Regions from separate parts of the Homo sapiens genome. Here all the other regions are reported to be linked to region 1. The links are microRNA targets in miRTarBase. Many come from high-throughput screens and were not tested one by one. Region 1 holds a microRNA gene; each other region holds the end of a gene's coding sequence.
The links. Region 1 holds the annotated microRNA hsa-miR-744-5p (UGCGGGGCUAGGGCUAACAGCA, at 2,396-2,417, opposite strand). A microRNA usually pairs through its seed, bases 2 to 8, with sites in the 3' UTR of a target mRNA and lowers its output. Matches are read on the target gene's strand: a 7mer-m8 pairs with bases 2 to 8, a 7mer-A1 pairs with bases 2 to 7 and ends in A, and an 8mer does both.

Region 1 (4,066 bases):
GAAACTCACCGATAGCTTGGGAGACTGTCCTCAAACCAAACATCAAAAAATTGTTTTAAGTATAACTCTTACAATGTTACCTCACTAAATCTGATTATATCAAAACTGATTTTTAGATTAAGTCTTTGGGGTAATTAACTCTGGTTACTAAGAAGTCACCTTTTTCAAATATTTCTTATATATGGCAAAATAAATTTGGGGAAGGAATTCCTCAGAACTAAAAATGAGGAATAATACAAAGAAAAAAATCAAGCTAATATCACAGTTCACTTTTCTACAGATATTGCAAGTAAATCTTAAGGATCATTTCCAGCTTAACATCTAATAATGCAATCCTTCTTTATTCTCAAAGTGTGTATTAAGATGTTAGCACAGAGTTACTTCAAGCGTGTTTCTCATTTCACCAACAGCAATGGAAAGCTCTCAGCTGTGTGAACCACCGTCTCATGGTTCCTTTAAAACCGTAAAGTCTCAAATCAAACACCTCCTTAATCATACATTGATTCTGTATATTTGTGCCTGTCAATCCAGTCAATGTACCTAAATGAGGAATGAATGAACTCTCTCAAGTGTGATGAAAGACTATTCTTCTTTGAAGAAACCAATAATAAATGCATTCTTTAATTCAGAGATGGCATACATCTGTCATCAATTGGTATCAAATTTTAATGCATATTAATGCAAAAACACTTATTCTTCCAGTATTAATGAAGTCATGGAATCCAAAGGTACTCCTCAACTATATGTTAATTGATGTGTTGTACTGCCATCCTCTCCCATCCCCAACTGCTATGCTTGTTCAAGAATTCGAGATGGTAAACGAAGCTAGGTAGTACCATGTGGTGGGTATACATGTGACAGCAACCAGTTTGTAGGTCTCATGACTGCCTTGAAAGTTCTTCAAGTACAGCTGGGATTTTTAATAGCATCCCAACTGGAACTGTCACAGTAGCCAGTAGCCACTGATAATGTAACATTACAAATGATGGACAACAATTTCCTATTTTCATTCTTGAATTCCTACAAAACTTGAGTAAGCATTATACAACCCAAAATATTATCAAATTAATCAGTGAGAAAAACTTTTAAGTGTCAAAAGGAAGTACCCTCTTTACCTTTATGACCTTTTTAACAATGGCTAAAATCAATCCATATTACTAAAATGTTTAATAATGTTCATCAACAAAGTTGAAGCACACATAACACAAACTGTAAAAAGCAGGAAATAATTTTTTAAAATTACTTTCCCTAGTACCTGAAAGAAAAGTTTACAACTTTAACTATATAGGAAACCTTTCCCTTAAGATCCAGCCAACTAAAACTGGATGTCACACACAGGTAGCACAAAGGGACAACACAACATTCATCCAGGAGTCTAAATAAAATGACTCTTTCCACTTACACTGCAGTGGCACAAAATAGGAATACAGAAATCATTTCACATTCCAATAAAACATTTTATTTTAACACATAATGCAGAGTTCTTCACCTGTGCATCTTTAGAGGTCTACGGTTTGTATACAAAATGTTGTGTATATACACCTGCCTATGAAAAGTCTATAGTTCTCACCACATTTTAAAAATACAGCCAAAAACAATGTTAGGAACCCATAGAGAGAATCATAAAAATTTTCCCTACCACTAATTTAACATTACTTTCATATGACCCAGCAAAAAGAAATGCTCAACAGTGAAGGATACTAAAATAGTTACAGTAAGGTTTGGCTCACAACAGACTTCTACACAGAAAGCATTTTATTTTAATTTAAATTCATTCTCAAATGTCAAGAAAAAACTAAGGACTCTTATCAACCACTCTGACAAACTCTCAAAATAGGACACTAATAGGAAGATGATTAGCTTGGACTATATGCAAATCCATTCTGAATTCTTGTAAACTGAAACATTTTTGTTCCCATAGGAATTTTAAGCTCAGAGAGGGTATGGCCACAGCTAGCTTTTTTTCCTTTGTTTTTGCAAGTTGTTCCCCCTGTTGCTGATTTTCCTGAAATATCTTACATACAGCAAAGATTTGTTAAACATCTAAACAAACAAATGAATAAATTACAATTACATGAAACTAGGAGTCAGATGGAAACCACCAGTTCTTTACAGGTACCAGCATAAGCTTGCCAGGTATTGTCTATGGATCAAATCTCTGTTTCTGGCCATTTTTTTTTTTTAATGAACATATTAAGTGGCACGACACAATAAGGACAAAATGTGACAACATTATCACAAGGTATGCATTTCAGTACAACTTTAAAACCAGGGAACAGGGCAGTACTGAGTAGAGATGAAATAAACAAACAGAAGCCGAGCCGGTCAGGACCGAGTAAGGTTGAGGTTAGTGGCAACAGCATGTGCGTGGTTTCCAGGAAACCTTCAGTAAGACTGCTGTTAGCCCTAGCCCCGCACCTTGCCCAACCCAGTGTGCTGCGTCTTCTTCCAGCTCCCGCCTGGCTCAGTGCAGCACTGCCCTGCTCCCAGGGGTGCAGCCGCCCAGCCTGAACTCACCTTGGCAGTAGAAGGGCCTGAAGTTTAAAACATGTTAATGCATCATGCCAAAAATGCAATCAACATGCACACTTCATACACTCATGTTTCCAAAGAGATAGAAAATGTGCCACCAATAAGAAACCTCTACACAGAACACCCTCAAAGGAGTTGGAGAAACAATTTTTTAAACACCCACATTTACCACAAAAGTAGGAACACAACAACAGTGGTATTACTGCACCATGAAATTTCACCTAATGGATTAAAGTACCAAAAATAATCATGGCATCACCTACTTTAACTGCCATTATTTGCCCACTTGGTTTGTGGACCATTTTGTTGACAGAACCATAAGCTCCTCGTCCAATTTCTCCAAGGTCTTTCAAGTCCTCTGCAGTGAAATCCCAGTGTTGTTCAGGGGAGATCTTCAGTTTTCCTGATGACTCAATGCTGTGTGTTCTCAGTCTCTCTCTGTTAAAATATTGGGAAGCAATTTTTCCACATTTTAAATAGGTTTTAACTTTTTTCTTTTAGTACTGATTAATGTGTGGGAAAAATGTTTTCTAAATTACTAAAATAGTCTGACCTCCAGGTTTTTGAAGTTTTTCATTTGTGTCATCCTGGTTTTTTACACACTGGATTAAGAATGATCTAGATTTAGGTAGTCAATAGACACAGCTTCAACGGGATTCATAAAAACAAATTGCCAAGAAGATTTTTAAAAATTCCCATTTATTGATTAAACTAATTCTGCAGATCAGTTTTCATTTCTAAATATAAGATCTTATTCAAACTTGGATGATGGTTTATCCAAACAGCATTATCAAGTGAGAATCCCAAGAGCTGCAAACCTTATTGCGAAAAAGTTCTTACCCTATCTTACCCAACATTAGTTATTCCAGTGCCTCAATCTTCAGTTAGTACAACTATTCCCAAGGTTTGCTGTACCTTACAATCACCTGGGGGAGATTTTAAAAATCTCAATGCCCAGGTATCGTCCCATAGCAATTACATCTGAATTATCCAGGGACAGGAGTCAGAAAACAGTATTTTTAAAGACCCCCAGATGATTCCAGTAATGTTTGGGAACTAGTGCCTTAGTATACTGTCCTGTTCTTGTTAATACCATCCTGAGGTGGGAGAACAGTTAACTGAATAGCTAGCTGGCTCTAAGAGGAAAATTGCCATGTGCTATTCAAAATTGAAATTTTCAGCCCTCGTTCGATAAAGCAATGGGATAAAAAATGAGTGGCTCGTAGACAAAAGAGCTCACTCATTACATATTTCCATTAAATAAAAAATCATCTCCAAAATCTCAACCTGGAGATCAAAGTATTAATAACTTCTAACCATGCTTTGTAAAAAAGTAAATCCAATGAAAAATGTAAAATCAATCTGTTTCTCTCTCTTGCTCTCTCTCACACACACACCAAACCCCAATGTGTAGGAACAAACTATCAACCATACACACAATGAAAGAATTCATTAAATATCAACTACATTTTTCAGTTTCATACTAAATGATCAGGATCTCTTTTAAACTCTGATCCTATGATGCAAACAAGCA
Region 2 (4,066 bases), not on the chromosome of region 1:
CACTGGATAATCATTCCCTGGCCATATCAGTCATCATGATGGTGGTGGCTGGCTTCTTCACCCTCTGTGCCGTGCTCTCAGTCTTCCTCCTGCAGCGGGTGAGTGGTGTGGGCAGGGCTGACAGCAAATGGGAGGAGGCAGGCAACCGTTTCCTGCCCTTGCCACGAGATGTTTTTCACCACTGCAGTTGGGCATCCTAGGCCCCCAAAGGTCCAGTACCTTTCTCCAGGGATCTGGGTGGGGGGTCAGGCAGTGCCAGGCTTCTGGTGACCCCTTTGGGAGTATAACCTGGATGGCTGGCTTCCTGGTGGGCCCAAAGGACAGGCTTCTCTCACCCCACCCCTCTTCGCCAGGTGCACTCCCTCTACCGACGGACAGGGGCCAGCTTCCAGCAGGCCCAGGAGGAGTTTTCCCAGGGCATCTTCAGCAGCAGAACCTTCCACAGAGCTGCTTCATCTGCTGCCCAAGGAGCCTTCCAGGGGAATTAGTCCTCCTCTCTTCTCTCCCCCTCAGCCTTTCTCTCGCCTGCCTTCTGAGCTGCACTTTCCGTGGGTGCCTTATGTGGTGGTGGTTGTGCCCAGCACAGACCTGGCAGGGTTCTTGCCGTGGCTCTTCCTCCTCCCTCAGCGACCAGCTCTCCCTGGAACGGGAGGGACAGGGAATTTTTTCCCCCTCTATGTACAAAAAAAAACAAAGCTCTCTTTCCTTCTCTGGTGATGGTTTGGTAGGATTCTTTTGTCTCTGGAAGCAGTGGGACTGAAGTTCTCTTCGTCCTGTGCACACACAGACACCCCCACACAGTTGGGATCACAGGCTGACCTGGGCCCATCCCAGCTGGAGCTTTCTGCCAGGGTCCTGGGCCTTGACTCCCCCACCCTGCAGGCCTGGCCTGAATCTGGCTTCTTAGACACAGCCCAGTCCTTCCTGCCTGGGCTGGGAATAAGCCTCTCACAGGTTCTGGTGGACAGATCTGTTCCCCAGGTCACTCCAGTGGTCTCCAGGCTTCCAGAGAAGGCTGGTTGCCTCAAGCTCTTCTCTGCCTCATAAACGGATCCAGAGAAGGCTGGTTGCCTTAAGCTCTTCCCTGCCTCGTGTTCCTGAGAAACGGATTAATAGCCCTTTATCCCCCTGCACCCTCCTGCAGGGGATGGCACTTTGAGCCCTCTGGAGCCCTCCCCTTGCTGAGCCTTACTCTCTTCAGACTTTCTGAATGTACAATGCCGTTGGTTGGGATTTGGGGACTGGAAGGGACCAAGGACACTGACCCCAAGCTGTCCTGCCTAGCGTCCAGCGTCTTCTAGGAGGGTGGGGTCTGCCTGTCCTGGTGTGGTTGGTTTGGCCCTGTTTGCTGTGACTACCCCCCCCCCTCCCCGAACCGAGGGACGGCTGCCTTTGTCTCTGCCTCAGATGCCACCTGCCCCGCCCATGCTCCCCATCAGCAGCATCCAGACTTTCAGGAAGGGCAGGGCCAGCCAGTCCAGAACCGCATCCCTCAGCAGGGACTGATAAGCCATCTCTCGGAGGGCCCCCTAATACCCAGTGGAGTCTGGTTCACACCCTGGGGGGTGTGTCACTGTGATGGGACACGTAGGAGTCCACCCTTAAAACCAGCACCCTGTCCCTCGAGGCTGCCGAGTGGGTGTGTGGACTGGGGTGCCTTCCCACAAAACTAGCCTCCGGCTCTGGGCCCGAGACAGCCGCAGGCCCCAGCCACTGAATGATACTGGCAGCGGCTGGGGTTTTATGAACTCCTTTCTGGTATTTTTTCCCCTCTATGTACAAATGTATATGTTACGTCTCAATTTTTGTGCTTAAGTAAAAATAAAAACATTTTCAGACAACACGGGTCCACATGTCTGGTGGACTTGGGAGGACGGGGCAGCCCACAGGATTAGGGGCTGGGCGCCGCTGCTAAGATTGGAGAGCGGGGACAGTTAAGATGCAATAAATAGGTCAAGGCCCTTCCTCAGAAAAGTGAAAAGCAGCTGGGAGGCCTGGGAAGCCAACGCGGCCTCTTCCAAAGGCGCCTTCTCGTGCCAGTAGCTCTCCTTTCAGAGCTGCGGGTCCTGGGGAGGGGCCCTGGGAGCCTCCCGGACGCCGTCGCCCCCACACACGCCCGCTCCGCCGCCCGCGCCCTCACGTGGGCGATCTCTAGACGCCTCTGCGCCCGCTAGGAGTCCCCGGAGACCACGCCGGCCGTCCTCCGTTGTTAACTTCTAGGCTCGCGGGGCCTCCGTATCCCCACGTGGGCCCTGCAGGAACTGGCGGGGCGCGTGACCCGGCGAGGCCCAGAGACAGGGGAGGGGCGCCGGGAGCCGGGCGGATCCGCGTCCCCGATGCGCGCTGCATTTCCGGCGGGCGGCGCTGGGGGCAGCGTGGAGCCACCCAGTGCTCGGCCCGCCCCGCAACCCGCCGGAACCGCCGCCCGCAGCGAGGAAGCGCCCGCGCGGGCGCAGGCGGCCGGAATGGCGGGGCCCGGCTGGGGTCCCCCGCGCCTGGACGGCTTCATCCTCACCGAGCGCCTGGGCAGCGGCACGTACGCCACGGTGTACAAGGCCTACGCCAAGGTGGGTGCCGGCCGATGGCCCCGTGCCCGCCCGAGCTAGCTCGGCTGGTGCCGGCCGGGGAGACTCTGAGAGGTTAGCGACAGTGTGGGAATAGTTAGGGGCGGGAGGCCGGCCTCGCCCCAGCTGACCCTCGGCGGAGGTTGGAGCCGACTGCCACGCTTAGGTCTTAAAGAGCGCACCTGCACCCACCTGCAGGGTCAGTGGCTGAAGAACAGGCTCAAAACAGGTTACCTGGTGGGCTGGGAGGAGTCTGGGACTGGAGCCAGTTGGGAGGCAGAGTGGGCGGTTCTAGAACCCTGAGTGACATGCCTCTGCCGGGAGCACTCCAGAATGCAAAGAAATGGATCAGCTAGCCGAGGGTTGGAGAAGACCAGGCTGAGGCTGTGTCGGGAAGCCAGGATTCCAGAATCAGCATTCCTCACTGGCCTCACAAGGGAAAGCTGGGAAGCCCGGTGCTGGTGTGCAGTAGGTAGACCCGGGGAGGGGCGGGGTGGGGGAACAGAGGGAACCAGATAGAGCCTTTCCAGTCAGACAAGGGTCCTGGCCCCCTCAAGGCAGAGTCCCCAAATCTCCTGTCTCGCAGAAGGACACTCGTGAAGTGGTAGCCATAAAGTGTGTAGCCAAGAAAAGTCTGAACAAGGCATCGGTGGAGAACCTCCTCACGGAGATTGAGATCCTCAAGGGCATTCGACATCCCCACATTGTGCAGCTGAAAGACTTTCAGGTGTGAGCCTGGGGCGGGGCCGCTGCCAAAGGGAGCTGGAGAAGGGACACTCTCTTCAGGCCGCCTCTCTGCCTCTAAACACAGTGGGACAGTGACAATATCTACCTCATCATGGAGTTTTGCGCAGGGGGCGACCTGTCTCGCTTCATCCATACCCGCAGGATTCTGCCTGAGAAGGTGGCGCGTGTCTTCATGCAGCAATTAGGTAAAGGCCTGTGACACCAGCCTGACACTCTGTCCCTTGTTCTCTGCCCCCCACCATCCCACCCCTCCCCCAGGCTTAGAGCCTTGGCACGCATTGCAGCTGCCTCCTGCACAGCCTGAAATTTTATGGTCCTGTTTATCTCATACACTCAACCCTTGCTCAAGGACGCTGTGGGAGAGATGAGGGGGTAACCCCTCTGTGGGGTGTTCAGGCTTCCATACATAGAACATAATATAAGGACCTTGTAGAACATTCCAGAGTCCTGTAGGTAGGACTCAAGTGCTGTGCCAAGGAAAAGAGCAGGATCTCAAGGGCTGGGGCATCCAGAGAAGCTTCTGAGAGGTGGGGAGACTTGTGAAGGGGCAGAGGGAAGGAGGGTGGGCACTCGGGTGGGGTGGCAAACTCCTAGAAGTGGTGTGATCTTGGTGCTTATATGGAAAACATTAGACCAGCCAGGCAGGAACTGGGGTTGTGCAGGCTTGAGGAGGCAGATGTGAGCCGGGGAGGCGAGAGGCAGGCGGGAATGGGCTCTGAACTGTCTCTCTTCGTGGGTCCTGCTCCTCAGCTAGC
Region 3 (4,066 bases), not on the chromosome of region 1:
ACTTAAGGGGAGCATATATTAATCAAAGAAACATAAATGTAAAATTACAACCACATTAAATGCTACAACATAAACATACATGTTTTATATGTATTCTTCTGGAAGTGTATATGGGTTGAGGGCAAATCAGGAGAGTTGTGATTTTAAGAGTAGAAGATTTTCATTATAAATTCAACTTCGTGGCTTATCGATGAATATTGTATACACAACTTAGTTAAAAATTACATAAAAATTACTGCAATTTTAAACTCTAAAGAGATGTGCTCACAAAACTATTTGTCCATGTTCTCACATAAATCGTTAATAAATGAAGACTTTGTTTAGGTTCTTATCCTAGATTTAGTATGTAAGCTTTGTTAAGGTGAGAACCAAGGTTTAGGGATATATATTAATATATCAACAAAGCTTGCCTATATATGTTTATATATATATTATCTATATTATATATATAAAAGAAACTATACTATATATAGTATATATAAAACTATATACATATATACATATATATATATGTAAAAGAAACTACCTCACTTATTTCTGTTACAGGCTACATCCTCTCTGAACCCTCCTCCAATTTTTAAAATTACACTTTATGTTCCTATTGGATGCATGTGTCCTGTATGTCCACCTCCCCACCCCATTCTTCCTCAGTCCTGGAATCTGGCAGACTGATAAATTGACTATGTGCTGGCATGCTCTGCTACCAAAATACTAACTTTCTGACTTTTTAGAAAGATGAAGTGTCATGGGCGAAGTAATACTTAACTATATTATTCAGCAATATTAGCAGAATATTATGTGCCCTGTGAATATAATATGGCTTGTAAAGCAGGAAGCCCCCCATTTGCAAGGCCAGGGGGAATTTTTAGCGGGTTATACACCTTAGGTAAAATTAGGTATTTGCCCAAATTTAAACATAATTGCTGATCATCTGCTTCTCACAATTGAGGATATCTGATAAAAGTTGTTCCTGATGTTTGTAAAATTTAAAACATAGTTATATTACACCATAAGCTGCATTTAAAATTCAGGGCCCATTTCTTCCATGTGCCTAAGTCTCCTAAGTTGAAAGTTTATTCAGTACTGTGATAGTAGAGAACAACAAAAAAATATGCTCTATCTCCAGCTACTGGGTTAGAATTCTGTCCTTCCTTTCACCTGTCTTCTCTGGATAGGTTCCAAAGCTAGATCCCACTAACCAAAAGGAAGGAGGCAGCAACACTTCCTGCCCAGAATACAGAATCCTCAAAGTTCTCCCTCTGCTGGTTCAAGGAAGATATAAAGAATGTCACTCCCGTAACTCTTAAGTGAGCATTATTTTTGAAAAAGCCGGATTGGTAGATGCCTTTGGTGTAAATCCTGAAGTTATCCAGAGAATACAAGAGGAGTTACTACCAAAGCTTAGGCTCAAAGTACTCCAGCCCTAGCTACCTGAACTAGTTCTGCCCTTCCTACAATAAATTTTGCCTCTTTTTCTCTTCTCACTCAAGTAGCCCCCTCCTAACCTACAGGGTAAGATTTCAATGCCCTCTGAGGAAGTAAGGTTAGGATTGGGATCTTGATATGGTTACCTCCTCCCAACTCTTTCTCTAAAACCATCAGTCTCCCCCTAAAGGGAAGTGGAACTAAGTGAACAGGACTGAAAATCAGCACAAACTGGCATTAAAAATTATGTTCCCTGAATTCCTATAGATAACCTGCTATAACAGGGAGGGAGTAGTTCTCTGGGAAAACAAATCTCTCTGAAGCTTACTTGGGTTTAAACTCTTCTAAATGGCACCTTTTGAGTTAGTCTATGGTTTCCAAGCAAGAAAACTGCATTGAACTCAGGCTTTGTCCTAAAAACCAGGGCTAGAAAGGTGACATGGGCAGGATACCCTGACCCTGTACATATTGGTGCTAGGATAAAGATAACGATTCTTATCTCAAAGGAAACAACACAAAACAACTCTGTGACACAGTAAGGTAAACTAACTTGTCTAAAATCACAGCAAGGTAAATGACTGAGGCACAGTCAAGGATCTAGCTCTCCCAAATCTGTGTCCTTTCCATAACATAAGAGAGGCCAGAATGACTTCTAAATTGACATTAGTCAAAAAAATTAAAAATCCTTCCCAATGTTGACCTAGGGATTTTATAGCTCTGTACATAAGGAAACAGGAAAAAAAAAATTGGGGGAGCGGGGAGGTTAATCCAGATCAGCAATTTTGTATTATCTTTGAGGAACAGGTGGGTAAATAAGACTCCGAAGGCCCTGTTGAGTCAGGTTATAAACTGCTGACAACAGGGATACAAGAGGAAACTGGGACAGAGAAAATCTGAGGACTGAGCTCCCTAATTCCCAAGAGCAAGAACCTGATTGTCCTAGGGGAGCTCAGTTCCCAGAAAATCCTACGGAGAGTCAACACAAAGGTATATAAAAAGCTTCACAACAGGAAGATACCAATACCAGACAACTGTTGCCTACTCACTACCCACCCAGGCTGCGCTGGGGCAGACTATATATCCTAACATTCTGGCATGAAGTAGTTCTGACAAGTGAGGAAAGCATGGTTGCGGGTGCGGATAGACAATAGGGCAGCAGGGATTCACTGTTCTAGTTTTCCTTTGGAGTTCAAATGTGTGTGATTTCAAAACAAAAATCCAGAAGGAAACATGAGATTAATGCATTTATTCCAAGTAATTAACACATTAAAAATAAAGTTAAACTTGTCCAAGCCAACTCATAAATTCTTTAATCTTTTTAACAAAATATACAACCCCAAACATCGTACTATGGTTGAAATTAATTGGGAAAGGAGGAGGTAGAGGAAAGGATACATATGGGTTTGTGGAACAGGGAATGAGTTCAATCTCAAGACAAGTTTCAGAGATCTTCTACCCCTTCACAACACAAATGGCTGCTAAACAATTTAATACAAAGTGTTATTGGATCACAATACAATGAACAAAGGCCATTTCAAAAATAAAAGTGATCTCAAAAGCATATCTGCTCCTGGCAATGAACCATGAATAAGCCTTACCGATTTGTCGTCTTCTAAAAGTAAGCCTGCCAGATATTCTTCCATGTTTATTTCCAAACAGGTTTGTGGGTTAGCAGGACAATGCATCTCAAGAAAGGCAACAGAGTAAGGGAAGTACAGGAGTTGACATGCCAATAAGGGGTGTAAACAGTAAACAAAAGAGCTACTCACGCTGCATTTCAAACAATGTTAAGGCAGGCCCATCCAAATGGAAGCCTAAGAGATGAACAATTCTTCCAAGTTTTCCATTTCAGCAAGCTTTCTGGTGTTTTTCCCAGAGATGCATCAACTGCCCAGGAAATTGGGTAGGAATACAACACAGCAACTGGAGAGGTCAGCTGCCTCCATCCTCCCCCACATTTCAGAAATGGCAGAGTCAAAGCCAAAATACAATCAAAGCACACTATGTGGTGAGCCAGTTAGACATGTGATTTTAATGACAAAGTGGGAGAAAATAAATTGGCCAAAAAAATTAACAAAATACATTTTTACAGATATATATATATATATATAAGTTGTTATCGATTTGTCTGGTGTTTTAAGGGGAAAGGGAAAAGGAAAGGAGGTAAATTTTTTAGCTTCCATGAACATTTACTTTAAGATGCTGACTGCATCTCTTGGTGTAGGTTCCAGATGAGATAACAAACTAGTCTTGGATCATCTGGGCATCTGATTTCTAGAAGCCAATGATTCACTCACAAGTAGCTCTAGGTATTTATTCTTAGTTGTGAACACTGGATTCTGTGTGGTCCTGGATGGCACCAACTGTAGTTTCCTGTTCAGGCATTCCCTGAGGGACCATATTGTCTTCAATTACCTGCTCCCTTGGAGGGGACCTTGACACTGGAGCTTTAACCAAATTCAGAGGGTCGCCACTGTCATCATCTACTTGCAGAATTGCCACCTCTGTGGTGGATGCATTCGATATTTCTAGCTGTAATGGCCCCAACTCCAGGGAACTACATTTAGAAGGGTCACCTGGCTCAGAGAGTGGAGAACACAGTTTATCTTTTTGAACTCCAGAGGTCCGTGTGACAAAGTCA
Region 4 (4,066 bases), not on the chromosome of region 1:
ACTTCTGGGTCTGTTTGCCAGGGCCCGTCTGCCATGGGGACCATCCCATTGCCAAGTCCCTGGTGCCACCCTTGCCATAGTGCTCCCTAACTCTGGCTCTCAGAGTCTGTTTCAGGATTCTGTGGTCTTCCCGGCTACTTTTTTGTTTTCCACAGGCCCATGTCCAAACTGGAATCACAGCAGCCCCGCCCCCTCACCCTGGGGCTCCCCACCCGCCCCAGGTGATGCTGCTGCACCCACCCCAGAGTCATGGGGGGCCCCCCCAAGGCGCGGTGCCCCAGAGTGGGGTGCCTGCACTCTCAGCTTCCACACCCTCACCCTACCCCTACATCGGACACCCCCAAGGTGAGCAGCCTGGCCAGGCGCCTGGATTTCCAGGAGGAGCCGATGACAGGATTCGTGAGTTCTCATTAGCTGGGGGAATTTGGCATGGAAGAGCTGAGGGGCTGCAGGTGGGGCAGGATGCACGGGTTCTGGGTGGGGAGTGAGGGGTCTTGGAGGCAGGGCTGTCCCACAGGGCGCCCGCCGACCTGCACCTGTCTGTGAAGTATGTAGGGTGGGCAGAAGCCACAGTCGCCGCCGCCAGGGGCTTGCTCCTGGCTCTGTCCTTTGCTTCCCTCCGTCCTCGCTCAGTTGTGATCCAGCAGCCCCCCTCCCCACTGCCTCCCCAGCTCTCAGTGACCCCGACTGTCTCCTGACTTAGCCGAGGTAAGGTCAGTGCAGCAGACAGGGCCAGACTGGGGTGTGGGGGGCTGAGCTGGGCACATGAGTGAGGGCTCTGGCTTACTGGGAAACAGCGATTGACCTGTGCTTCTGACAGCCCCCGAGACACCTTGAGGAGGCCGCTCCTTCCCAGACACACCCCCACGCCCCCACTGGACGGCATTGGAGGAAGGGACAGCTGCTTGGGTTCTAATGCTCCTGCTCTCTTCTCTTTCCCCTCCAACCAGTTCAATCTCATCCCTCCCAGCAGCTCCCCTTCCACCCCCCGGGGAACTGAAGATTGTCCTGGCCGCGACCTGAGACCTCCATGAGTGGAGGGAAGAGTGATCTATGTCTCTTCCCCCAGCAGCTCGGACCACTCCCAGCCCCCCATCCCCCCGTTCCCCAGGGGAGCTGGGGAATTCCTGCCAAGCACCTTGAATGGGAGGGGCCTCACAGAGGGCAGGGCCAGGGTCCAGCAGGGGTGGGGGGTTCCTGCTCTGCCCCTGCCCGTCCCCACCCAGTCTTGCCCTCCCATCCTCTCATCTATTCCCCCGCTGGAGACGGAAGATCTTTTATTTTCTATTATTTATAACTTCAGACTTGGGCCCCCTGTTCTTTCTTTCCCATTAACTTGAGTGACCTGTGTGAGAGACAGACAGATGCCCCACGAGGATGGCTGGACAAGGACTTTTACTTTTTATTACATAAAAATATTAAAAAATAAATAAAAAAAATAAAATTTTAAACTAACTTAACCTGCCTGGAGTTTCCTCCTTGGAGACTAGAGTGGGGTGACAGCTGTCAGTCTTTTGTGGCATTGATAGGTGCTGCATTGTGACCTGTTCCTTCACCTCCATGTAAAAATCGTGTCCAGTGGCCAGCCATGGTGGCTCACGCCTGTAATCCCAGCACTTTGGGAGGCTGAGGTGGGCAGATCACCAGGTCAAGAGATGGAGACCATCCTGGCCAACTTGGTGAAACCCCATCTGTACTAAAAATACAAAAATTAGCCAGATGTGGTGGGACATGCCTGTAATTCCAGCTACTTGGGAGGCTGAGGCAGGAGAATCACTTGAACTCGGGTGAAACCCTGTCTCTACTAAAAATACAAAAATTAGCCTGGCGTGGTGGGACATGCCTGTAATCCCAGCTACCTGGGAGGCTGAGGCAGGAGAATCACTTAAACCCAGGAAGCGGAGGTTGCAGTGAGCTGAGATCACTCCATTGCACACCAATGGTGGCCAGTTTTTGAAATCTAGGATGATGGGGAGCCAGATCGGGATCCTGTGCCATGCATTTGAAGGTGGGTTCCAGACTTCATGTGAAGTTGTGTAGTTGATGACTGAGGTTCTGGATGACCGGATGGCTAAAAGCACGTGAGATGGGAGTCCGCTTCCCAGGATGGGACAGCAGTGGCACAGTTCCCAAGGATGCTGTCCCTGACTGGCTCTGGAACTGCTACATAGATAGCTCACCCAGCTGTCTAGTGACTATTTTCTCATCTTGAACTTGGCTTCATCTCAAGGTGTGATTCAAAGTTTCATTTCTAATATGAGTATCTCATGAATTACATACACCTCTTTATGTTGAAGGGTGAATGTTTATGGTCATTGGAATTAAAATCCTGATGGATGTGCAGCTGACTGTGGATGAGAGCTGTAAAGGTGAAGCTGTTAGTGGGAGAAGAGGGGAGAGGATTGGTTGGGAACTGGGCTTACTGGGGAGCAAGAGCAAAATTAGGCATTATGGGTGGGACAAGAAGATTGAAGCATGGGATGTGGAAATGACAGCAGGCTCCAGAGGAGGTAGTTTTTCAAGGAGGTTGAGAATTCTCTCGGAGACTTGACCTTGGTTTCCTTGCCTAAAATGGAGGTGATTTCACCTTTCCAGGATTTTAAGGAAGTGGCTGGTGCTCAGTGGTAGACGGGTGTTTCAGCTCTCACCAAAGCCAGAGAAAGCTGGCTGAGACCAGGACAGGAAGAGTGAAGGCTACAGTATTGGGGAAGAATCCCAGCATATGCAGATTTGGAACTTGGTAATAGGTGTACATGGTGGGGTGGAGAGAAGGGGTTATTAAAGAGGTTAAAAAAAAAAAAAAAAAAAAGGACTTTATGTGGTAGCCACTTGGATGCTAAAAATGGGCGGGGTTGGAGTCCCAAGAGCACTCAGCAGGTAGATGTGGGGTGGTGCAGGAGCTGCAAGGCTTCAGCTGGGCTCAGGATATTTGAAGTGTAGATGGAGAGACAGGTATCTACTATGAAATATGGCAAGTATTACTGGGTAATCTTTCAATTTTTTTTTTTTTTTTAAGAGACAGAGTCCCATTATGTTGGCCAGGCTGGTCTTGAACTCCTGGGCTCAAGCAGTTCTGCCTTGGCCTCCCAAAGTGCTGGGGATTACAGGTGTGAGCCACCACACCCAGCTGAGTAGTCATTTTGATGCTTTCTGGAAGGACTGCAGATTGTACAGCAGTCCGCCCGCATCTGGGGGGGATGTGATCTGAGATCCCCAGTGGATGCCCATAGTACCAAACCTTATGTATACTATGTTTTTTCCTATAGCTATGATGAGGTTTAGTTTCTAAATTAGGCACAATACTCTTGTGCTTCGGGGCCATCACTGAGTAAATCAGGGCTACTTGAACACAATCATTGGAGTGCTGTAACGGTCAATCTGATAACCAGCACGGCTACTAAAGTGACTAACAGGCAAAGGGATGGTTCACGTCCTGACAGGATGGATGGAGCAGGATGGCAAAAGATTTCATCATACTACTCAGAATGGTGCTCAACTTAAAATCTGAACTGTTAAATAGAAAATTCTAGGCCAGGTGCGGTGGCTCACACCTGTAATCCTAGCACTTTGGGAGGCTGAGGTGGGTGGATCATGAGGTCAAGAGATCGACACCATCCTGGCCAACATGGTGAAACCCTGCCTACTAAAAATACAAAAATTAGCTGGGCATAGTGGCGCATCCCTGTCGGCCCAGCTACTTGGGAGGCTGAGACAGGAGAATGGCTTGAGCCCGGGAGGTGGAGGTTGCAGTGAGCAGAGATCGTGCCACTGCACTCTGGCCTGGCGACAGAGCGAGACTCTGTCTCAGGAAAAAAAAAAAAAAAAAAAGAAAATTCCAGCTGGGTGCGGTGGTTCACGCCTGTAATCCCATACTTTGGGAGGCCGAGGAAGGTGGATTATTTGAGGTCGGGAGTTCGAGATCAGGTTGGCCAACATGGTGAGATGCCATCTCTACTAAAAATACAAGTTAGCCAGGTGTGGTGGTGGGTGCCTGTAATCCCAGCTACTTGAAGGCTGAGGCAGGAGAATCACTTGAACCCGGGATGCAGAGGTTGCAGTGGGCCGA
Region 5 (4,066 bases), not on the chromosome of region 1:
GTGACACCCATTTTAAAGGTGGATGAACTTTGTTTTACAGACCAAATGTCCTCGTCCTTCACCAGCAGATAGCGACTGGGCTGATTCACCAACAGTTAGCGACTGGGCTGATTCGCCAACAGATAGCGACTGGGCTGATTCGCCAGCAGATAGCGACTGGGCTGATTCGCCAGCATAGCGACTGGGCTGATTCGCCAGCAGATAGCGACTGGGCTGAATGTAGGAACTAGGTGCTCTGACTCCCAGGTGTGATTGTAACTGTGTTGCTGACTTTCAGTCTAAAAACAGTAGCTTGGCACATGGGAGTGAGCCTGGTGAATCTGGACTCCATGGGCCAGGAGGCATTTGGATTGAGAGGGGAGGAGCCTCTTTTCAGGAATGGCTCTAGTCCTATTCCTAGGGATTGATTTTACCTCAGGGCCAGATCTTGCAGGGACCCCCTATAATTTTGGGAGCCAGAGTAAACAGATGGCTGTATCCTTACCTTCCAATTGTGATTTTTCTTTCCTCCCTCTTCAGAAAACAACATGGAAGCCAAGTTCCTAGGAAATGCACCCTGTGGGCACTACACATTCAAGTTCCCCCAGGCAATGCGGACAGAGAGTAACCTCGGAGCCAAGGTGTTCTTCTTCAAAGCACTGCTATTAACTGGAGACTTTTCCCAGGCTGGGAATAAGGGCCATCATGTGTGGGTCACTAAGGATGAGCTGGGTGACTATTTGAAACCAAAATACCTGGCCCAAGTTAGGAGGTTTGTTTCAGACCTCTGATGGGCCGAGCTGCCTGTGGACGGTGCTCAGACAAGTCTGGGATTAGAGCCTCAAGGACATTGTGTGATTGCCTCACATTTGCAGGTAATATCAAGCAGCAAACTAAATTCTGAGAAATAAACGAGTCTATTACTGTGTTGGTCTCAGCTGATTTGCCCTTTGATGGCCCAGTGAAGAGAGCCATCTCTTAGGGTGTCTTTCCATTTTTTTCCCAAGGTGATCACTGAGTACTGGATTATATTACAGTGCGTCACTGAGTTACTGGGCCCAGGAAGAAAGGACAGAAGGAAATGAATTGACTTCCCGAAAGCCTTGAATTCTGTGAAAGCTTCTCTAGGCCCTTGGGAAAAAACTAGTTCTATATAGTTTCTTAGCCATTTCCAGTTTGTTTTTCCTTCCCTCTGCACTTGATATGAAGGTGTTTTAATCTAGCCTGGGAAATAATCCTTCCTTCTTTCCCCCCCTTCCTAAAAGCATTTTATTTTAAAAAGAATTGAGTTATGTCTTAACCTTTTTTGAAACAGTCATGTGAAATGTGCAGTTAGTTTATCTCCATTCTACAGATGGAGGAATCACGGCCAGGTTGTGACTTAGCCCAGAGTCATACTGCATGTGCCTGTTGGTGCTAGAGGAGAATGCTGACCCCAATGCCCCTCACCTCTGGGGCTCTTGGCTCTTCAGTGTGTTGTTTGGGTCCTCACTGGTCCCCAGTGCCTGGCACATACGAGGCACTCAGTAAACATTTGTTAAGTGAGTGGCAGAGCATGGGGAACTCAGGCATACCTTTGTCTGCCCAGAATAGTGGTTTTAGTCTGCAGTCCTGGATTCCCATCAGATGCTTCCTGGTTTCGTCTCAGACGGCCTGGGTTAAACAGGCTGTGAGCACATGAGATGGGATTTCTGTTTCTGCATCAGCTGCAGCCTTGTGTTCTTGCCCAGGGTCAGGGAAATTGCTTTCTTAATCAAAATTGAGGGGCCTAGGCCTGATACTCCTCTGCTAACCTTTTTCCTCCTGCATGTGTGCTCTCCCCTGCATGACTGAGGGGAGATGTCTCCTGGCATAGGCTTGCTGATGGTGAGCTGTAGTGGCGCCTTTGTAGTGAAGCCTGGGCACAGCCACAGGGCCAGGATGCACTTTCTGGGTTTTGGAGTGACTTGTGTGTGAACTGTATTGCATATTCTTAGGGCCACGGGCACCTCTGACCTAGAAGGGAAGGAATCACCAGAGTGAAGTGACTATTTTCGTGACCGTGCATGTCTGTAACAACATTGTTTTTTTGGTGAGAAATAGCATATGTGCAATTGGGAAATAGAGAAATGGTGTCAGAATGACCCAAAGTTAAGTTAGATTTTTCTGCAGAACATTAATGTTTTTAAATGATCAGGGACAAGATTGAATAGCTTAAGAAAAAAGCTGAAAATTTTCTAGAAGCACCTTCCTTTATTGCAAGTAGGGGCTGGTTTAGTAACTTCTAGAAGCACTGCTAGCCTTTCCATGATGTTCAGCTCTCAGGGGAAACTGTGAGTGGAATGGAAGAAGCTGTGAAGACACCTCACCCACCTTGTTTTAAAAAATTGATGAAGAAGGCCCTGTCCTGGATCACAGTTTTAATTTTGATGGAATGCATCTCTGCTAAGATTACATATCAAAGAACCTACATCTCAGGAAGCAGTATAAGCCCCAGGATTTAAGGCTGCTGGGGACTGGTGTACAGGTGGTGGGGGTACTGCATTAGCATCATCATTAGGCTTCATTCTCTTTTGTTATTGCTCTGGTTACAGAATTCCATAGGTTTTGAGTGGTCTGCCCCAACCCCCTTTTCTGTTATTTTTGGAGTGTGATATTGCAGAATGCAAGATTTTTAGCATTATAGTATAAATAACTATATTTGCTGAGTGCCAGCTTGAATCTTCTACCGGCTGGCAAACATGACCAAAAAATTGTTTCTAGTGTATCCTTTGGGGGAAGATTGCCAGGGAACAAAATAAGATGCTATGTTCTCAGTGTGGGAGGACAGCGTAATGTGTGTGGTGCTGTGGGGATTAGGAGTTCCAGTTTGAAGTGTGTTTGTACAACCTAAGAAGAGAAATGCCTCTGTGTGTGTGTGTGTGTGTGTGTGTGTGTGTGTGTGTGTAACATGTACAACAGACCACCCAGTTCACTGAAAGGATCCTTCAGTTGTTAAGGTTTAGCCTTCGCCTCTTGGTCATTGTTTTCCCAAATGATTTCTGGTCTCCTTGTTTTCACCTTTGCTGGTTCTACAGAGAAAATACTGCCCTGCTTACAAACTTGTTTTCCTGGTAACTTATTTTCAAGGGTTACTTCCTGCTGGGCCATTTCTATGCCTTGTATGTGCTTCTACACTTAACACTTTATAGGATAATTAGTTGTTAATCTGGCTCCTATACAGGTCAAATATCCCTTATCTGAAATGCTTGGGAGCAGAAGTGTTTTCAGATTTCAGGTTTTTTTGGATTTTGGGATATTTGCATTATACATAATGAGATATCTTGGGAATGGGACCCAAATCTAAACATGAAATTCATTTATGTTTTATATACATCTTATACACAGATTACCCGAAGGTAATTTTATACAATATTTTAAATAATTTTGTGCATGAAACAAAATTTGTGTTAAGTACTTGATGTGTGGAGTTTTCCACCTGTGGTGTCATTGAGGCCCTCAAAAAGTTTTGGAGTTTGGAGCCTTTTGGATTTTGGGGTTAGGAATGTTCATCCGTACCTACTGGGCTTCAGAAACTGTGTGCAGATTAGCTCCTTTCCCCATGAGCACTGGACTTGGGGTCAGAAAACCTGGATTTGAGTTTTTATGACCTCAGTTAAGTTACTGTTACTGTTGATGACAGCGTAGTGACTCCTGAGTGCCAAGAGCCTTGTGAGTGCCCTTACTTACAAGCTACGTTGTTATTTAAACCAGCAGGGCAGGCATCTTTATCCCTATTTTATACATGAGAAATAAACTCAAGTTAGTTAGCTTACTTAGAGTTACTTCCTAGTAAGAAGTGGGGCCAGAATTCGAACCTAGACCTGTATACAAAGGTAGTTCTTAACTTTTCTTAACTTTACCTTTCTCATCTATAAAATGAAGATGATACTTCTTCTCAGGTAATGTGGTAAGTTATGCGAGAGTACTTAGCACCATGTGTGGCTTGTTATAAACACTCAGCAAATGTTTCCCTCCTTCCAACATACTTAGGCTCCTGAATTCTGCTCCTTCATTTAGCTGTAACATCTTTAGCTTTTACAACTCCCATTCTCACCTTTTCTAAGTT
Region 6 (4,066 bases), not on the chromosome of region 1:
CATCAGGGTCACTCTGTCGTCCTCCTAGCAACCCTGACCTCGGTGTGTTTTGCAGTGGGACTTGCTGCTATTCTTGCTACGGGAGCTGGTGGAGAAGGGTCTGATGGGACGGATGGAGATAGAGGCCTGCCTGGGCAGCCTCCACCAGGCCCAGTGGCCAGGGGTAAGGAGTCTCCTGTCTTTTAGGTGGAGAGAGAACAGGTGTTACATATCCCATCTGTCCTGAAAGGAAGCAAGTGATGGGGCCAAACTAAGTGGATTTTTGTCAAGAGTCTTCAGGGCCACCCTGAAATTGTCCCGATTTGAGTAGTTATTATATGAGGGACTGTGTTAGTGGGAAGACGGACGAAAGGCAGGCAGTTAGTTGGAAAGCAGCACAGCCCATTATATGGGTTTTTAAAATTAGAATAACCTGGATTTTAACGGGAATAATAATTTCAAGATGAAGTAGATGCACTCAGTAGTACTCAAAAACTGGTCAAGCCTGTGCCTCCATCAGAGTTCGCTCCCTGCCATAACTTCAGCCTCCCAGAGTACTAACAAACAGACAAGGTTTCATGTCCATTTCAGTGTGGAGGGCAGTTGAGAAAAAATAATATAGCCAGCCAGGTTGTGGTCTTTAGTGACAAAGGATGAGCCATTGAGAATTATTACATGCTGCCTTTTCCCTCATCTTTCTATGTATTCCAGGACTTTGCTGAAGAATTAGCAACACTGTCTAATCTGTTTCTAGCCGAGCCCCACCTGCCAGAACCCCAGCTAAGAGCCTGTGAGTTGGTGCAGCCAAACCGGGGCACTGTGCTGGCCCAGAGCTAGGGCTGAGAAGTGGCCCTGCCTTGGGCATTGCACCAGAACCCTGGACCCCCGCCTCACGAGGAGGCCCAAGTGCCCAATGCAGACCCTCACTGGTTGGGGTGTAGCTGGGTCTACAGTCAGACTTCCTGCTCTAAGGGTGTCACTGCCTGGCATCCCACCACGCGAATCCTAGAGGAAGGAGAGTTGGCCTGATTTGGGATTATGGCAGAAAAGTCCAGAGATGCCAGTCCTGGAGTAGAAGAGGTGGTGTTTGTTTATCTCTTGGATACTAAATGAAATGAGGTGTGTGGGCTTGTCAACACAGAATTCAAGCCTCATTTGCTATCCCAGCATCTCTTAAAACTTTGTAGTCTTGGAATTCATGACAGAGGCAAATGACTCCTGCTTAACTTATGAAGAAAGTTAAAACATGAATCTTGGGAGTCTACATTTTCTTATCACCAGGAGCTGGACTGCCATCTCCTTATAAATGCCTAACACAGGCCGGGTCTGGTGGCTCATGCCTGTAATCCCAGCACTTTGAGAGGCCTGAGGTCGGCGGACTGCCTGAGGTCAGGAATTCAAGACCAGCCTGGCCAACATGGCAAAACCCCATCTCTACTAAAAATAAAAAAATTATTAGCTGGGCATGGTGGTGTGTGCCTGTAATCCCAGCTACTCAGGAGGATGAGGCAGGAGACCTGCTTGAACCTGGAGGTGGAGGTTGCAGTGAGCCGAGGTCGCACCACTGCACTCCAGTCTGGGTAACAGAGCGAGACTTTCTAGAAAAAGCCTAACAAACAGATAAGGTAGGACTCAACCAACTGAAACCTGACTTTCCCCCTGTACCTTCAGCCCCTGTGCAGGTAGTAACCTCTTGAGACCTCTCCCTGACCAGGGACCAAGCACAGGGCATTTAGAGCTTTTTAGAATAAACTGGTTTTCTTTAACAAGGGCTTGATGTCTAATCATTGTCACCTGTCTTCTCCCTTTAGAAGGCTGCAGTCTCGGGTGGGCTGTAGGTGGAGCGCTGTAATTGTGGCTTTGCTCTGTGCATTACAAGGTGAGCTACCTTGGCTCTTAGAAATGCCTGTATATTCCACTCTAGAGGGCTAGTCTCTGGTGGCAATATCTATTAATTTAATTTATCGCCAGTGGTACTGACTTCTCCTGTGTAACTCGCTTTATTTGTGGGAGAAAGGGTTAGGATAATGTAGTTTCCACACACAAGATATTCCCTACTGAACCACATGGTGGGGCAGTGTTCTTGTTAAGCTTGTTAAGGCTAAGGTGTTTGTTTGATTGATTTGGCTTGGAGTTTCTCAGAGCAAAAGCATTGCTTCTCGATTACAGCTGTATCAAGCTCTATAAATGAGCCACTGATTTTGACAGGTTCACACCTGTAATCCCAGTGCTTTGGGAAGCCGAGAGAGAGGACTACTTGAGTCCAGGAGTTAGAGGTTACAGTGAACTATGATTGTGCCACTGCACTCCAGCCTGAGCAAGAGTGAGACCCCCATCTCTTTGAGGGGAAAAAAAAAAAGCACTACTGTGATCATGTGCATTAATAACCAGGAGTTGGACTGATAATATAATCCTCAGGAGGACCTAAAGGGGTCCACTTGTGTGACCATGGTAGAGCCAGGAAATCCCATCAACCTAGAAAGTAAAAAATGGGAGTTTTCCTCAGTCACCACCTTGTGATCATACTTCTCCCAAACACCATGCCTTTCCCTTCTCCTCAGCTCAGCTACTCCTTTAACAAGTTTCTATATCTGAACCATTTTCCCCTGATCTCTTCATTTTCAAAGGCCTTTATCTTTATCCTTTAAATCCAATTTGTTCTGAATGCCTGGGAACCAAAAAAGCTTTAAGGAATGCTTTCTCGGCCGGACACAGTGGCTCACACCTGTAATCCCAGCACTTTGGGAGGTCAAGGCGGGAGGATCACTTGTGCTCAGGAGTTTGAACCAGCCGGGGCAACATGGGGAAGCCTCATCTTTAAAAAATACAAAATTGGTGAGGAGTGGTGGTCCATGCCTGTGGTCATAGCTACTTGGGAGGCTGAGGTCAGAGGATCACTTGAGCCCAGGAGGTCAAGGCTACAGTGAGCCATGATCACACCACTGCAGTCCAGCCTGGGCTACAGAGCGATACCCTGTCTGTCTCAAAAAAAAAAAAAAAGCTTTCTATGCCCAGAGACCAGCACTGGGTGTGATTAAACCATAGCACCGCCCCCACCCAGGAAGCTTAGGGTCAGCGTCAGGCTTGTGGCTACTCCTTGACTTGTTCCAGAGGACCCAGCTGAGGTGTGTGACATGGAATGGGCAGGAGAGGAAAACCTGAAACCCCTAAGGATGCTGAGACTGAAGGGCTGGGCCATAACCCAGGCCTGGCTTAAGGCCCACTGAGTTAAAAACAAGTTCTTGGGAATCTGAATGGAAATTTAACATGTTCCCGATGAAGGAAACTTCCTGCTGGCCTGTGTGAGCCTTAAAGGCTACTCTAAGGATTATGGAGACAGGCAGCTAGTGGGTCAGTGAACTAGATTCTGTATGTCTGCTCTCTAATTGTCAAAGCCAGCTGTTTATAAAATGTGGTCCCCAGACCAGCAAACTTCAGGGTCCCCTGGGACTTCTTGTTAACACAAATTCTCTGGTCCTTCTCCGGGGCTACCAAACCAGTAACTTGGGGTAGGGCCCATCCTGGGGCATAAGAAAGCGTTCAGGTGATTCTGATGTATGCGAAAGTATGACAACCACGCCATGAATCCAAAATCTGACTCCACTTTTGCTTTTTGCTACAAGATCCCTCTCAATCTTTCGCTTGCTGATTCAGTCAGGTCTGGTGTTGCTTTTTTTTTTTTTTTTTTTTGAGACAGAGTCTCACTCTGTTGCCCAGGCTGGAGTGCAGTGACACAATCTCGGCTCGGCTCACTGAAACCTCCCCCTCCCAGGTTCAAGCAATTCTTGTGCCTCAGCCTCCCAAGTAGCTGGGATTACAGGCACATGCCACCACGCCTGGCTAATTTTTTGTATTTTTAGTAGAGACAGGTTTCACCATGTTGGCCAGGCTGGTCTCAAACTCCTGACCTCAGGTGATCCACCCGCCTCAGCCTCCCAACGTGCTGGGATGACAGGCATGAGCCACCATGCCCGGCTGGCTTCTCTATTAAGGCGGGCAGGGTCACCTCCTGGTTATCCCCTGACTCAGATTCCCATAGGTGGCTCTGCCTCAGAAGCCCCAGGGCACTGTGGTCACTGTTAGGTGT
Region 7 (4,066 bases), not on the chromosome of region 1:
CCTAGAACTTAAAGTATAATAAAAAAATAAAAAATGAAATGGGGTGGGGGCCGCTACAGTGGCTCACGCCTGTAATCCCAGCACTTTGGGAGGCCGAGGCAGGCGGATCACGAGGTCAGGAGATCGAGACCATCCTAACATGGTGAAACCCCGTCTGTACTAAAAATACAAAAAAAAATTAGCTGGGCGTGGTGGTGGGCACCTGTAATCCCAGCTACTCGAGAGGCTGAGGCAGGAGAATCGCTTGAACCCGGGAGGTGGAGGTTGCGGTGAGCCGAGATCGTGCCACTGCACTCCAGCCTGGCAACAGAGCAAGACTCCTTCTAGGGGGGAAAAAAAAGGGCATTTCTTCCTATTCAATGAGAACATGAGGAAAAGGCAAAAGGCAGAGGCTGGCTGGGAGTGGGTTTGTGTGTGTAAAATTGAGTTTCAGTATAAAAAAAGATCAAGGCAGGACTGAAAGCCCTGAGGCTGGCATCGCAGCTCCAGAGCGAGGGGCAAGCGTAGGGCGAGGAGCGAGGATAGGGCGAGGGCGGGAGTAGAGCGAGGGGTAAGGCTAGGGTGAGCACAGGTGGCAGGGGACTCTGGTGGGCCTGGACTCTGGTGGGCGGGGTGACCCAGGAGCTCGGATGAAGCTCCTACGGGCTCCAGGAAGGTTCCCTCAAGTGCCTTCCCCACCCAACCCCTAGGCCCTGAACAGAGTCGAGACCCAGGAATGTCCCACGCCCCATCGCTTCACCTGTCCCAGGGAGAAATTCTGGGGTTTTTTCCACTTCAGCCCTCTCTGGGGGAAGACGTCGGGTCAGAAGCACATCTGCTCCTGAGAGCCAGCCGGGAGCACCACCATGACTCTTGCTTAGCCAAACCTGAGGGATCTGAACCTCCTCCTAGGCCCATCCGTGCATGCCCTTGTAAAATCCTTTCAGCAAATGAACCCCGCCGCCATCCCCCCCAACCCCCGCCACCCTCACATCTGATAGGCTTCTTCAGCCTCCACCATCCCCAGGTGACCTCTGATCACCCTGGCCTGCCTTCAGCAAGAATCCTGCTAGGTGGGTTTAGCCGAAAACCCCCGGACCCCTGAGGTTTGCTCTTAGTGATTTTCCATCCACTGATGGTACCTGTACCTGTCTCGATGGTCCTGAATAAAGTCTTCCTCACGGCCATTTAACAAGCTCGCCATCCCACTGTGGGGAGAGAGACACATCTGCTGTAGAAAGAGTGATACACACACAGTGGGGGGAGCCCTCAATCGGGGACAACAGCAGGCTCCCAGCATTCTCCCAGCGTTCAACCGTGTATGTCACTAAGCTCAGGTGCTTGGGCCTCATGGGGGACTCCTACACAGCAGCTCCTGCTGAGCACTTTGGTGGCTGGAATATTCTAGAAAGAGGAATAAAGTAGGAGACACGAGATCTGTGGTGCTACTTTGTAATTCGCACTGTAGGGAAAAGAAGATGCCGAAGATGCTGTAGTTAAGCCCCAAATTTATGTGCAAGCCTCTGGGTTTTTGTCTTGTTTTTCAATCCTGTCTTCTCTGTTTTGCCAAATGAGGAAATGGTGGGGAGAATTAAAGCCTCACACCTTTAACCCCTCCACTGGACTAATCCAACTGTATCATTTTATCTTCGTCCTCAGCTTTTTTGAAGAGAAAGGGAGTGCAGGCTCCGCAGTGCGAAATCGTGAAACTTATCCTTAATTTGGTGAATGGAGGGTCTGACAAGTGAGGGGCCCAGGAGCTATGACCCTGTGGGGAGACCAAGATTGGCAAGAGGGAGGCTCGGCTCGCCTCCCCTTTCCATGTGATCCCACCCAGAGCTGCCGCCTTCAGCTGGCTCTCTGTGCCCTGTGGGGCTCCCCCATCACAACCGCCTAGAGCAGCAGGGTCTCGGACAGCCCAAGCGTAAGGGACGCTTGCTGCTGCCTGGGGACAGCACCCCCTCCCCCGGTAACAGTCCCCATTTCCTCCTGGGAAATGACTCTCCCACAACATACCCAGGCCGGGTGTGAGAAGAGGGCTTCCCCTCCCTGGCTAAGCAAGGGGGATGCTCCTCTGCAACTGAATCTGGAACCGGCTGACCCCAAAGTTCCTGTGTCCCTGGGACCCACCTCTTCCTGCATGGTGTGGTCAGCAATTCCTCCATCAAGCCCCCGACAACCCTCCAGACACCCTGGTCTGCAGGGGCAAGTGGAGGCCAGAGAACGCTCCGACACAGGTCATGACCCAATTCACAGCAAGAAACAGAACCCCAACCTCACATCACCCCAACAGCACTCCTTTTGCTCTGCAATCCCCAGGTGACGTAGGTCTGTCCACCAGGGAGTGGGCACACAGGGTGGCCACGACGCTGCTCGGACACCGCAGTCATGTCCCTCTCAGTGGCCTCCAACACTCCACTGGCTGGGTGCTCCCTGGACCCCGACCCATAACAAGTGTCCCTGTGATGTAGCTGTCTGGCCCCACCCTGAGCCCAGAGCGTCCCCCGGGCAGAAGGGGCAAGAAGTCTGACCCCAGGGGCCTGGCCCCACACAGCCTTCACCCCAGCACCTCTGAGACAAGAGCTGTCGGAGTCACTGAGGGAGCGAACCCAGCCGTCAGGACTTGACCCCAGGGGATCACGGAGGGAGACTCCACATGGAAGAACAGCCTGTTCGGCTTAAAACAGACATGGCCAGATCCCCATCCCTGAGGCCCTGGCTGTGGGGCCTGCAACAAGCTGTCACCTAGCCCTGGAGATGACAGCAACACCCCCCTCACAAGGCGGCCCGAGGATTCTCCCGGATAGTCTCACCAGGTGTGGTCCAGCCCAGGACAAGAGCACACAGAGGAAAACAGCACACAGAGGACAACCAGGAGGCGCCTGGTGGTCCACTCAGCTCAGCCGGCAGAGGCTGACCCGGCTTTCCAGGAGTGCAGGGATGGATTAGTGATGCTTGCGGTGGGCCCGGGCGATGGCGACGGTGACCTGTGTTGCACATGTGCCATCTCTCAGGATTCTTCTCCTCCCTGAACCCCAGTGCACTCTCTGACCTCATCCTGGTGTCCCCTCAACACAAGAGCAAGGCCTCCTGCACCGGAAGCGTCTGGCCATGAGTGGCCTCCCGACCACCTGGACCTGTGTGGGCTACAGCTCCGCCAGGCCTCGCACAGTCCACCCTCAACCCAGCCATCCCTTGACCTGGGAGGGTCAGGGAAATCAGGGCTTCTGAGACAGAGGGGCTGGTTGCCAGCCACCCCCGAGAAAGAGATGTGACCTGAGCCCTGGGTCCCTGGATGAAGGGGCTCTGGGGGACACACGAAATCACAGATGGGAATCTGGGAGTGCCAAGCCCGTGGGAATTGCCATTTATTCCCAAAGTTGCCAAAATCATCACCAAGGATTCACCGAGGGTGCGTGAGCGGGTGCGTGAGGGGAACGAGGAGGCTCAAACACTGACTGGGGGTTGGGAGTTTGGAGGGAGGGGGAATGGGTGGGGGCCCCAGCCACCCCTCCCCCTTCTAATGCCACGGGAAAGGGGTCCTCCTCTGGCCAGCTCCCCTCCCCAGGCCCCATGTCCAGTTTCTCTCCGGGGAGGTGGGGTGGGAAAGGAAGAGGGTGTAGTGTGAGTGGGCCCCAGGAAGGGGAAGGGCACTGGGGGTGGGGATCCCCCATTTCACATGCACTCACAACACTGATCTCCCAGGGAGCCGGAATGGGGCAGCCGGATGGAGCCAGGCCCCCTTCCGCCCTGGATTATAGGAGGAAGGGATTAGTGTTGGGGGCCGGGGGGCCCGGGGGCATCATGGGGGGCAGGCCAGGGCCCCCGCCAAGGGGAGAGATGTACGTGGGTGGCGCTCCAGGGACGGGAGGCACAGGACTGAGACGGAGCTGGTTCAGGGTGAGCGTCGCGGGAGGCGCGGGCTGGAAGGGGTTGGTGACGGAAGGGCCAGTGGCTGGGCCTCCTGCAGGAAGAGTAAACCAGAGACACGGAGTGGAGTCAGTGGCGCAGCCCACCTGTGTCCATCCAGCATGTGCAGGCAAAGGGCGAAGTGTCCCTGCCCCGTGAGGCACCTCCTCTGGTGGAA

Region 2: miRTarBase lists SCAMP2 as a target of hsa-miR-744-5p. Seed matches in the 3' UTR shown: 7mer-m8 at 1,417-1,423.
Region 3: miRTarBase lists ZNF318 as a target of hsa-miR-744-5p. The part of its 3' UTR that is shown has no 7-base or 8-base seed match.
Region 4: the mRNA of ATXN2L is a reported target of hsa-miR-744-5p. The part of its 3' UTR that is shown has no 7-base or 8-base seed match.
Region 5: the mRNA of MRPL46 is a reported target of hsa-miR-744-5p. The part of its 3' UTR that is shown has no 7-base or 8-base seed match.
Region 6: miRTarBase lists CDAN1 as a target of hsa-miR-744-5p. The part of its 3' UTR that is shown has no 7-base or 8-base seed match.
Region 7: the mRNA of EPN1 is a reported target of hsa-miR-744-5p. The part of its 3' UTR that is shown has no 7-base or 8-base seed match.

The regions. Positions count from the first base shown.
Region 1 is chr17:12,080,260-12,084,325 of GRCh38, reverse strand. It overlaps MIR744 (microRNA 744), which reads right to left and starts at 2,427; the gene lies at 2,330-2,427. It overlaps MAP2K4 (mitogen-activated protein kinase kinase 4), which reads right to left. Exons shown (of 11, transcript NM_003010.4): 3 at 2,796-2,970.
Region 2 is chr15:74,841,505-74,845,570 of GRCh38, reverse strand. SCAMP2 (secretory carrier membrane protein 2) reads left to right here. Exons shown (of 9, transcript NM_005697.5): 8 at 1-98; 9 at 354-1,841. The coding sequence ends at 488. It overlaps ULK3 (unc-51 like kinase 3), which reads left to right and starts at 2,415. Exons shown (of 16, transcript NM_001099436.4): 1 at 2,415-2,567; 2 at 3,151-3,291; 3 at 3,376-3,496; 4 at 4,062-4,066. The coding sequence starts at 2,466. RefSeq lists a silencer at 1,934-2,653 and enhancers at 1,916-2,827, 2,896-3,421.
Region 3 is chr6:43,333,414-43,337,479 of GRCh38, forward strand. It overlaps ZNF318 (zinc finger protein 318), which reads right to left. Exons shown (of 10, transcript NM_014345.3): 10 at 2,657-4,066. The coding sequence ends at 3,745. Among named protein-coding and RNA genes, the nearest start is that of CRIP3, 27 kb to the left of the region's middle.
Region 4 is chr16:28,835,778-28,839,843 of GRCh38, forward strand. ATXN2L (ataxin 2 like) reads left to right here. Exons shown (of 22, transcript NM_007245.4): 22 at 156-1,455. The coding sequence ends at 488. Among named protein-coding and RNA genes, the nearest start is that of MIR4721, 6.2 kb to the right of the region's middle.
Region 5 is chr15:88,456,317-88,460,382 of GRCh38, reverse strand. It overlaps MRPL46 (mitochondrial ribosomal protein L46), which reads left to right. Exons shown (of 4, transcript NM_022163.4): 4 at 520-905. The coding sequence ends at 770. Among named protein-coding and RNA genes, the nearest start is that of MRPL46, 9.0 kb to the left of the region's middle.
Region 6 is chr15:42,721,241-42,725,306 of GRCh38, reverse strand. It overlaps CDAN1 (codanin 1), which reads left to right. Exons shown (of 28, transcript NM_138477.4): 27 at 56-163; 28 at 691-1,763. The coding sequence ends at 816. Among named protein-coding and RNA genes, the nearest start is that of CDAN1, 14 kb to the left of the region's middle.
Region 7 is chr19:55,695,025-55,699,090 of GRCh38, reverse strand. EPN1 (epsin 1) reads right to left here. Exons shown (of 11, transcript NM_001130072.2): 11 at 1-3,943. The coding sequence ends at 3,735. Among named protein-coding and RNA genes, the nearest start is that of EPN1, 22 kb to the right of the region's middle.